2 separate regions of the Homo sapiens genome follow, and region 2 is linked to region 1. The links come from fine-mapping of genetic effects on gene expression. Tissue or cell type: lung. Region 1 holds a variant in brackets; the other region holds the start of a gene. All regions are shown on one strand. Distances are from middle to middle.

Region 1 (5,154 bases):
ATAGCTCTGCCCCCCTTTTATGTTGTTATTGTCACAAATTCCATTTTTATCAATTATATCCCCATTAGCACAGATTTATACTTATTGCTATATAAGAGCAAAAAAGCATTTACAAACCAAAAATACAATAACACTTGTTTTAATAATTTATTCATATGACTTTAAGTTGCTATCTAATTTCCTTTTATTTCAGCCTAAAAAACTCCCTTCAGCATTTTTTATGGGTTGGGTCTATTAACAATTAACTGTCATGCTCTAATTTATATAAGAATGTCTTAATTTCTCCTTCATTTTTGAAGGACAGTTTTGTCAAATAGATAATTCTTGGTTGACAGGTATTTTTTTCTTTCAGTCCTTAAATACATTATCCTACTTCCTACTGATGTGTATGGTTTCTGATGAAAAATCAGTTGTTGATCTTATGGAAGTTCCATTATGTGTCATGGTTTTTTGTTTGTTTACTGTTTCCAAATTTTCTCTTTCTCTTTGGCTTTTGACAATGTATTTATTTTATGTCTTATTATGAATGTATTTGAGATTATCCTATTTTGAATCTGTTGAGCTTTTTGAATGTGTAGATTTATGTCTTTCATCAATATTGGGTAGTTTTTGGGCAATATTTCTTCAAATATTCTTTATGACCATTGATCTCTTTCCCCTCCTTCTGAGATTCCCATAATGTGTGTGTTGGTATGCTTGATGGAATCCCATATGGCTCCTTAGGCTCGTTTCAAATGTCTTCATATTTTATTTTCCTTCTTTTCCTCAGACTGGTTAATCTCAAATGTCCTATCTTCAGACTTGCTGATTCTTTCTTCTGCCCACTCAAATCTGCTGCTGAGCTTCTCTACAGAATTTTCATTTCCATTATTAGATTTTTCAGCTCCAAAATTTCTATTTTTTTAAATAATTTCTATCTTGTTATTGATATTCTGTATTTATCAAGCCATTATTCTCCTGGTTTCTGTTATTTCTTTGCCCATGGTTTTCTTTAGTTCTCTGAGCACACTTAAGATAGTTGATTTAAAGTCTTTGTCTAGTATGTCCAATGTCTGAGCTTCCCCAGAGATAGTTTCTATTAATTTCTTATTTTCCTGGGAATGAACCATACTTTTGTTTCTTTGTGTGCCTTATAATTTTTTGCTAATACTTTTTAAATATTATAATGTGGTAACTATAGAAATCAGATTTTACTTCCTTCCCATGATTTGTTGTTGCTTCTTGTCAGTTGTGGTTGTTGTTTTGGGTAGTATTTTTAGTGACTTTTCTAGGCTATTTTTGCAAAGATTGCATTATTTTTCACTTTATTATTGAGGCCTCTGTTCTATTAAACTTGTGGTAAGCTAATAATTTTATAGGGATTTCCTTAAACACCTGTAGCCAAAAAAAAATTTAATACTCTCCCAGTTTTTGCGTATTTGCTCCATTGTGGTCACCATTTCAATGCTTAGCCAAGCCATTTACAACTCTGCCTTTGCCTTCACTTTATCTTCATGGAACCTAAATGCCAGCCGAAGGTGATAGCTTAGGGTTTTTGCAAGTCTTTTCTGAACATGTATCCAGCCCTTAGTGTGTGTATGACTTTTACATTCTCCAATATAGGTGGCACCTTTTCAAAGCCATTATTCTCCCATGTATCTCCTTCAGCAGTCTCTCCCTTTCCAGGCTTTTCGGCCTGCCTGCTGCTTGCTCTATCTGTTATCCCTCATCTCATGTGGACATGGACTTTAAATGCTTTTGATAAATGCCTACTGGAAAGCCAATCCAGTGCTGAGGGAACTCCATTGGGAAAGCAAAACAAAAGCAAGCCCCTGAGATTATCTCTCAGGGAGCCATCAGACAGTACAAAATACCAATTCTTTGTTCTCAAAGTTGTTCTCAAAGAATTGGTATTTTCTCCTTCTCTGTCACTTGCTAGCCACACCAAGAACCACAAATACTGCAGGACTAAAGAAAGCATAGAGTTTTTCCTTCCTCTTCTACAGTATTTTTTTTAAAAAACTTTTATGGCCGGGCATGGTGGCTCACGCCTATAATCCCAGCACTTTGGGAGGGGGAGGCAGGTGGATCACGAGGTCAGGAGAACAAGACCATCCTGGCTAACATGGTGAAACCCCGTCTTTACTAAAAATGCAAAAAATTAGCCAGGCATGGTGGTGGGCACCTGTAGTCCCAGCTACTAGGGAGGCTGAGGCAGGAGAATGGCGTGAACCCGGGAGGCAGAGGTTACAGTGAGCTGAGATTGCGCCACTGCACTCCAGCCTGGGTGACAGAGCAAGACTCCATCTCAAAACAAACAAACAAACAAACAAACAAAAAAAAAACTTTTCTAATACATATGTGATCTTGTTAGTTGTAAAAATGTCTGCCTTCTCTTATGGACTTTAATTCAATGAAGTTGGACTGTAGTTTAAATGATCACTCATTTCCCAATAATTTCAACAGTACCTGGAAAATAATAGGTGTTCAATAAATGTTTGTTAATCAAGTTCACTCTATATAAAGTAGATGAATTAAGACTCTGAAAGTTTGATGTGACTTGCAGTGACTCACTCATCTACTCAGCAGGGAAATCTAGCCGAAGCACCAGAATTTCCAGGAAAAATATTATGTAGTTTATTTACTTCTCTGAATTTTAATCTCGCCTTGCTACCATGACTTGCCCTCGAGCACACAGACCATGCTGAACTTCCAGAAATTGTGTTAGTTCCTTCATGTGTCCAACCTCAATCCCTGTGCTATGCTCACAGATAGTCTCAAAGGAGGTCTTTAAAAAAAATATATGGACTACTTTCTTCTAACAATTGTATTGTTAAAAAATCCTTTATGAAAAAATACTTTATGGTCAATCCCAACTGCTTTACAGCAAATTAGCCACCCATCATTTTTTCTTGCCCCAAATGCTCAAGATTCCTACAAAGTTCAGGACTAGATAGAGATTACAAGGTAATAATTTCTGTCTATTGTTTTGCTAGTCCACCCAAAGGAATATCTATGCCTTTAATTGCCCACTTTAGATAGCTTTCAGCTTTTGAAAATTCAGTAAGAAAAAATTCCCAGTAAATATCACCATTTGACAAAATATATCACCTTCAGGGGAAGCAAAGTACAAATGTGAACCACATGAACCTAAGAAGCAAAGTGAGCCACACAGATCTGCCAAATTTGATA[T/C]ACTAAAGAGGAACATCATTCTTTTTTAATTGTACATAACACTTTGAGAACATTATTATTCTAAAATGCTAATCCTTATTCAGTGCCCTCAGGCCTTGCTGTAATCCTCTGTAGGAGCAATTTTCACTGACAGTGGCCAGTAGTTCAGTCACTAGTAGGCAAAAGCATTACATTGATAAACATAAATCCTTCAGCTAGGGAAACAATAAATAACTTTAACAGATATGTAATTAATAGGCTGCTCAACAAGTGCTCTGAGCTCCCCAAGCTGGTATTTAAATGCAAATATGCACCAGAGTGTGAAAAGCACGAATGGAAGAGAGAACCACCATGAAACCATGCAGGCTTCCCAAAATTCAACAAGGGGCTTAGTACATGGTAATCATGTAACTGCCCAAGGAGTTCACCTTGCCTGCTGCCTAGACAGAGCCAATTCATCAAGACAGGGGAATTGCAATAGAGAAAGACTAATTCACACAGAGCTGGCTGTGCAGGAGACCATAGTTTTATTATTACTTAGATCAGTCTCTCCAAGCATTCAGGGAGCAGAGTTTTTAAGGACAACTTGGTGGGTGGTGGGAAGCCAGTGAGCCAGGAGTGCTGACTGGTCAGGGATGAAATCATAAGGAAGTTGTCTTCTTGTACTGAGTCAGTTCCTAGGTGAGGGCCACAAGATCAGATGAGCCAGTTTATTGATCTGGGTGGTGCCAGCTGATACATCAAGTGCAAGGTCTGCAAAATATTTCAAGCACCGATCTTCCTAGCAGTTTAGGGAGGGTCAGAATCTTGTAGCCTCCAGCTGCATGACTCCTAAACCATAATTTCTACTCTTGTGACTAACGTTAGTCCTACAAAGGCAGTTTAGTCCCAGGCAAGAGGGAGGTCTGCTTTGGGGAAGGGCTGTTATCATCTTTGTTTTAAACTATAAACTATAAACTGAGTTTCTCCCATGGTTAGTTCAGCCTATGCCCAGGAATCCACAAAGACAGCTTGGAGGTTAGAAGCAAGATGGAGTCAATTAAGTTAGATCTCTTTTACTGTCTCAGTCATAATTTTGCAAAGGCGGTTTCAATCACAACAATATGTCCAGGTCAAGCACTAGTACTTATCTTCCCTTGGAAGTCTGCTTAGGTCCAGCCAACAATTGCACACACTTGTTTAAAAAAGAAACTTCTAATACAGGGGATGGGGAGATAGTATAGAAACAAAAGACAAATATTCTTATGGCCAGCACTCTATGTTTTGTTTTCAAGGATGTTAGATGTAAAATTTAATTTTTCCTTCTGATAATTGTTTTTCAGCCATGGAGTTTCAAGAATATGGTGTATCTAATTCAAAACCTTTAAAATTTATGTTATAAAATGTATTACAGTGTTCTAATAAATCAGCTCTTGGTAGTAACAAATTACCAGTATGTACCATGTATTAAAAAGATAAATGGGAATTTAATAGTTAAGAGAGAAGGTGTTTTCAGATCACACAGCCAAATCACTAACTAATGGACACATTTGTAAACTCGGCAATGATTTACACCAGGGCTCTTGGTTAGAGTGCATAAATCCAGCAGAAGAGTTTTTATCTATCAACTGAGACTTTTGGTCCCTTGTTTATAAATCAAAAAGTTAACAAAGAGTCAGGGGTCTGTAAATCCAGATACTATATTATAAATTTGTAGCTTTTTATTTATAAATAGGTAGCTTTAAGAATTATATATAACAAATAGAAAAATGAATTGCATTTAAAATTAAGTGAAGGTTAGTATTTATAAATCACAATTATAAATAAAATGTCTATATGTTTGCATCACCAACCAATACCATCTCAACCAATTCCAAAACTATGCATTTCATAAGATCATAGCAGGGATGTGCCAAGCAGAATGTCAACACTTGGCAACTTCAGTGCAGGAATTAACTCAATGTTATTCTATTAACTTTAATAGGGAACTTTTAAAAAATATAGCATCTGCATTAAAATTTTTTG
Region 2 (5,154 bases), 420 kb after region 1:
GAAAATATGTTACATGGCAAAAGGGAATTAAAGTTACAGATATAATTAAGGCTGCTAATCATTTGCCCTTCAGATAGGGAGACTGTTTTGGATTATCTTAATGTGCCCAATATAATCAGAAAGGTCCTTACATGTGGAAGAGGTAGGCAGAAGTGTCAGTGTGTCAGAGTAATATTATTGTTGGCTTTGAAAATGGAATACAGCCATGAATGAAGGAATGTGGGAGGTCTCTAGAATGTGGAAAAGGCAAGAAAAAAGATTCTCCCAAAAAGTTTCCATAAAGGAACTCAACTCTGCTGACGCCTTGATTTTAGTCCAGTGTGACTCTTGTCAGACTTCCTCCAGGACCATAAGATAAATTTGTGTTGTTTTAAATCATGAAGTTTGTGGTAATTTTTGTACAGCAGCCACAGAAAACTAATACACAGACACTGTTAACCAGCTTTGTTAATACTTGAATACTTGGGGAGGCAGGGAGAGGGAGAGAAAGAGGGGTCAAAGGTAATTCCAAGGCTGTATTCCTTAAATACAGTTTCGATGGTGGACATCTTTTTTTTTTTGTCTGTCCATTGCCTGTCTCTTCTGAAAACGGCATCTCCCCCTTACTGTTTGTTTTCATTTAGAAATTTTTCTCTTTATTTTTTTTTCTTTAACCATGTGGTTCTAATTGGGTCCCATTCTTATGTCACATACGCATTTTCTCTTCAGGAGTGGTTACGGTACTCAATTCTACCCAATCAGATGTTTTAACTGTTGCTTTAAAAACTGGAAGTGAGAGAAGAGAGATACTTTCTCTCTGGTAGGAACTTGGTAGGTGTGAGCAACTTGTAACAGGCTACGGTGCCAAACCAGCAGAACATGACTTTGAGATGTTCTGTTAGAATGACCCTGTCTGTATTGAGAGCCTGAGCTGGAATTCAAAGCATTCCTGTTGCTGGTTCCATTTAATCCTATGGCCAATCATAGACCTACCCTTTCACAACTTGGGTTACACAATAACTTCCTGTTTTTGCCTGATCTACTTCAATCTAGTTTTTGTCATTTCAACCAAAATATCCTGAAAAATTTAGACAAAAAAGAAAAAAATAATCAAGTGAAAAGTTTTAAAAAAACACATATGCACATTTATTAAGGATGCAAATCTTACTTTTATTAGCCTAGCAATTTTTTTAAGAACATGTATGTGAAATATTTTACTAGTGAAATGAATAGGACAAAGTCCTGCTTCCAGGCACTTACAGACTTACTAATCCTGCAAAATTTGTGCCTACATTACCAATATACCTTTTGGCAATATATCTCTCTACATCCTCCCTAGGCTTATTTGACAAGTGCAAGATAGAAATGAGTTCTAGAAAATCTGATTTGTAAAATATATGAATGGAAGACAAGAAAGGTTAAATGGAAGAATTTTGGGATATTCAGATCTTTAAGGGCAATCACCAAACTCTCCCATAAAATGCTCCCATCACAGTTAAAATGCTTGCTAGGAAAGACTATTGGTGTGGTCCTGTGGCAATTCTTTTATTCTTAATAAGCCAAATGTTTCTTAATTCCATCACAATTAAAGTAAAAAGAAGGGGAACTTAGTTTGGAATAAATCACTTCAGGTCCACAGCCCAATTCACTTTGGATTCACTCAGGCGTGTGTTTATTTTAATAGCTGATCTGAAAGCATGTGAGATGCCACAGCTGACCAGACTGTAAACAGAAAAGCATACAAGTTAAAACCAAGCACGCATGCAGCATGGAATAATAATCAAGCTAGACTCCTTATGATGCAAAATGCCAGAAAACCTCCAAGCATTAGGTCAAAGTTTACACAATAGCAAAAGCCTTTTATTCTGTTTCTTAGAGGGGCTTGTAGAAGTTTAAGATTCAAGTTCTAAGATAGCTCTACCTAAAAAGCGAGGTCAAAGATGGGTTTTCTTCTCAAGATATTTGGGTAAGTTTGTACAAGACGGTTTTTTTTTTTTTTTTTTTTTTTAGAAAAAGCAGATAGTTGTCACCAAGAGTTGTCCGGAAACAGTGGCAAGGGAATTATTCCTCAAGGAAAGTGCAATTCTCTGAGCTGTAACAGTGGACAATGGTCGAATAGTCACCAACCACGATCTGGGCTCACACATAGCAAAGAGGTATATTAACTAGGATGCCCTACACAGGCGGTCTGTGGATGAGAAATCCCTATGCCCCTCACTTCACCAGGGCTGAAGAGTACGCGATGAGGAGAAATGACTAGGAAAAGGAATAATGTGTGGTGAGGTATGTATGCGAAAGAGAAAAAGGCTGGCGGGGACCCGCGGTGGCTAGGAGAGACGTGGCGGCCCAACGGCTGACTACTTGGGCCCGCGCCGAGCCAGGCTTTCTCCACGGTGCGTGTGGGAGTGCACAGAGGGGCCTCGACGGCTTTTCTGTATGTGTTATAAATAAACCCCAATAGTGGAAAGCTCCAGCAGGATGCCCTGAGCCCTGGGTCTTCCCAGCAGAAGCGGTGGAGGATCCGCCCCTCGTTTCCCACCCCCGCGCCCCACCCTGTTCCCGCCCCTTCTCTCTTAACCCCGCCCCAGCCCAGCCCCCGCCTCTTTCCACCTCCCTTCCAGTCCGCTCCCGGTTCCTGGCTCCAGCTAGGCTCGGCAGAAATAGGAGCGCGCAGGCGCGACGTGCGGCTCGCAGAACGGCGAGTAGCGGAGCGGGACCCGCTGTGAGTGTGGCGGCCGCGCTGGGTTCCTAGCTGGGGAAACGTGATCCAGGCGAAGCGCCCCAGGAAGGATTGGGGTGTGTGGGGGTGACTTCGGTTCTGCGAGGAGAAACCCGTCAGATATGCGGTAGCGTTGGTAGCGACGCTGCCTGTGGGTGTCCGGCCAGGGCCGCGTGGGGAGCGGAGTGCGTGGTAGCGGGAGTGGGTGAGGGTGGGTATGACGAGAAAAAAAATTGAAGGAATGGGGTTTACAGGCTGGAAGTCCGCACACAGACTGGGCAGGACCGCGAGGCTTGCCAACGGTGCTGGAGGGTGTCCCAGCTTCAAGTTCAGTCCCCTGCTTGGTGCCCATGAGGGACGTCCCAAGCTCATCCCTTCCTCCAGCGCTGCTTTCTCTGGTGCAGAGTTGCTAGAAACATTCCCCGTCGGAGGGGAAAGGATTTGGAGGCGGTGGGCTGTCGGCCCGGGCTAGTCCCAAGGAGGGCGTGGCGTTCGTGTGACTTTCCTTTACCCACCCCCGGGAATGTGTCCCTCTTCTGATCCATTGTGCCCGTGGACATTTTAACAAAGGCTATGACTGTTTTGTAGGCAGTGGCGGGTGACAGTGGGAGGGGGTGCGTGCGAGGTCGGTCGCGGTGCGGCCCTGGGGGATGGGAGAGCGGGGGGAGGGGGAGGCGGCGTGGGGGGAAGTGAAAGGAAGAGAAACAGTCTTCCTGCTTCAGGTTTTTCCTTCTTCCTGGTCCGCTGAATTTGATCACTGGTAGGAACAGCCCCAAGAGGGATATGACTGGAAAGTAGTGTGTGCGCGTTTGGACTCTGGCTCCAGCCACTGGTTTTTGTGATTGTGCTGTGCAAGTATTTTCTACGAGTCCCTTTAGGAGAAAAGCGAAACTAATGGGATTTGAGAGGAAATAATTGAATGAAAGGATGAAGAGGTTGAGTGACAAAACTTAGAGCTTAATTATTTGTCTGTTGATGGTCATACTATAAAGCCAGACTTTGAAGGATGCGAAGGTGTTCAAGCCAGGGTAAGTGAAAAGTTGGTTAGGCTACTGTTGATTGTTTCAATCAAGAGTGGATTATTGGGCATGTGTGTGGATGTGCTGTCAAGATCTTGGGCCGACTCACTTTAGAACCTTTGAAAATAATATTAAGGATACAAAACATTAGGGCAAATATTGTAATATTGGATAAAGCTCCATATGCTTTCATTTTCAAACTTAGGGACTTTTATGAAAGATAGTATATGTGTTCCCAAGCATAGATGTTGATATTTTTACTCATTTGTTTTAAGTTAATACAACAAAATAAACTGAACTTCCTCCTCTCCACCCCTTTCCCTCGATTGTAAATCCCGTTTTATAAACGTTTACTTTCTGATCTGAAGTATACTTAAAAACACAATTACCCCGCCCAACCCCCACCCCTGCACCAACCCCAGGCATGAGGTGAACAGGATTTCTTCTGGTTTTATTGTTATGTTATTCTTTCTTTTTCTATTTTCCCAAATTTGGGGCAGGTGGAGGGCGGGGAGTGTTAGGGATGCCTTTTCTCTTTTCTAGTGCCTGATGAACTCCTATTCATCTTTCTAGACTTAGCCTGATTCACTTCTTGAAAAATTTTGCCATCTTCTCCAGAGTGAATTAATCACACCCTTTTCTGTTAAATTTATATAACTTGCCTTATTTCTCCATTACTACTAGAACCTCAGTCTTTTGTGTTACCCTTGTACCTAGAGCTGCCTGGCATGTGATAAGCACCTAATAAACTAACTTACAGATATATATTAATAAATGCTGTTAGAAAGATGGTAATTCATAGGCCGGGTGCAGTGGCTTACTCCTGTAATCCCAGCACTTTGGGAGTCTGAGGCAGGTGGATCACAAGGCCAGGAGATCCAGACCATCCTGGCTAACATGGTGAAACCCCGTCTCTACTAAAAATACAAAAAAATTAGCCGGGCGTGGTGGTGGGCGCCTGTAGTCCCAGCTACTAGGGAGACTGAGGCAGGAGAATGGCATGAACCCGGGAGGCGGAGCTTGCCTTGAGCTGAGATCGCGCCACTGCACTCCAGCCTGGGCTACAGAGCGAGACTCCGTCTCAAAAAAAAAAAAAAGAAAGAAAGAAAGAAAAAAAAGATAGTAATTCATATTGCATAAAGTTCATGGGATAATACAAGAAATTCAGAATTCTGAAATTGTATTTAATATTTGAGCAGCATTATTTGGAATATGGATAAGTACTGTGTGGAAATATGTTCTCATGTATTAGTCATAGTTTATCCCTCTAAAAAGAGGTGCAAAAACTCTACAGATAAAGGGAAAATAGGGATCAGAAAAAGGTGAAGTTTTTAAAAAGGCCAGTTTCTGATACTGAAACTAGTGAAATTAACTATTTGTAGAAAGACACAAATAGGTTGCTGCTGGAATTTAGGAAGTACTACAAATGAATCAGGT

The links. PIP is the estimated chance that this variant, and not a neighbour inherited with it, causes the effect. A credible set is the group of variants that fine-mapping cannot tell apart.
Region 2: it holds the start of PRRG1, and the variant in region 1 is the best candidate, but not a certain one, in a credible set for the expression of PRRG1 in lung (TOPMed, PIP 0.76).

Annotation. Positions count from the first base shown.
Region 1 is chrX:36,927,338-36,932,491 of GRCh38, forward strand. No RefSeq gene overlaps it. Among named protein-coding and RNA genes, the nearest start is that of FAM47C, 78 kb to the right of the region's middle. The variant T/C (reference allele first, on the strand shown) is at 3,172.
Region 2 is chrX:37,346,695-37,351,848 of GRCh38, forward strand. It overlaps PRRG1 (proline rich and Gla domain 1), which reads left to right and starts at 2,670. Exons shown (of 4, transcript NM_001142395.2): 1 at 2,670-2,701. RefSeq lists enhancers at 2,466-2,977, 2,978-3,488.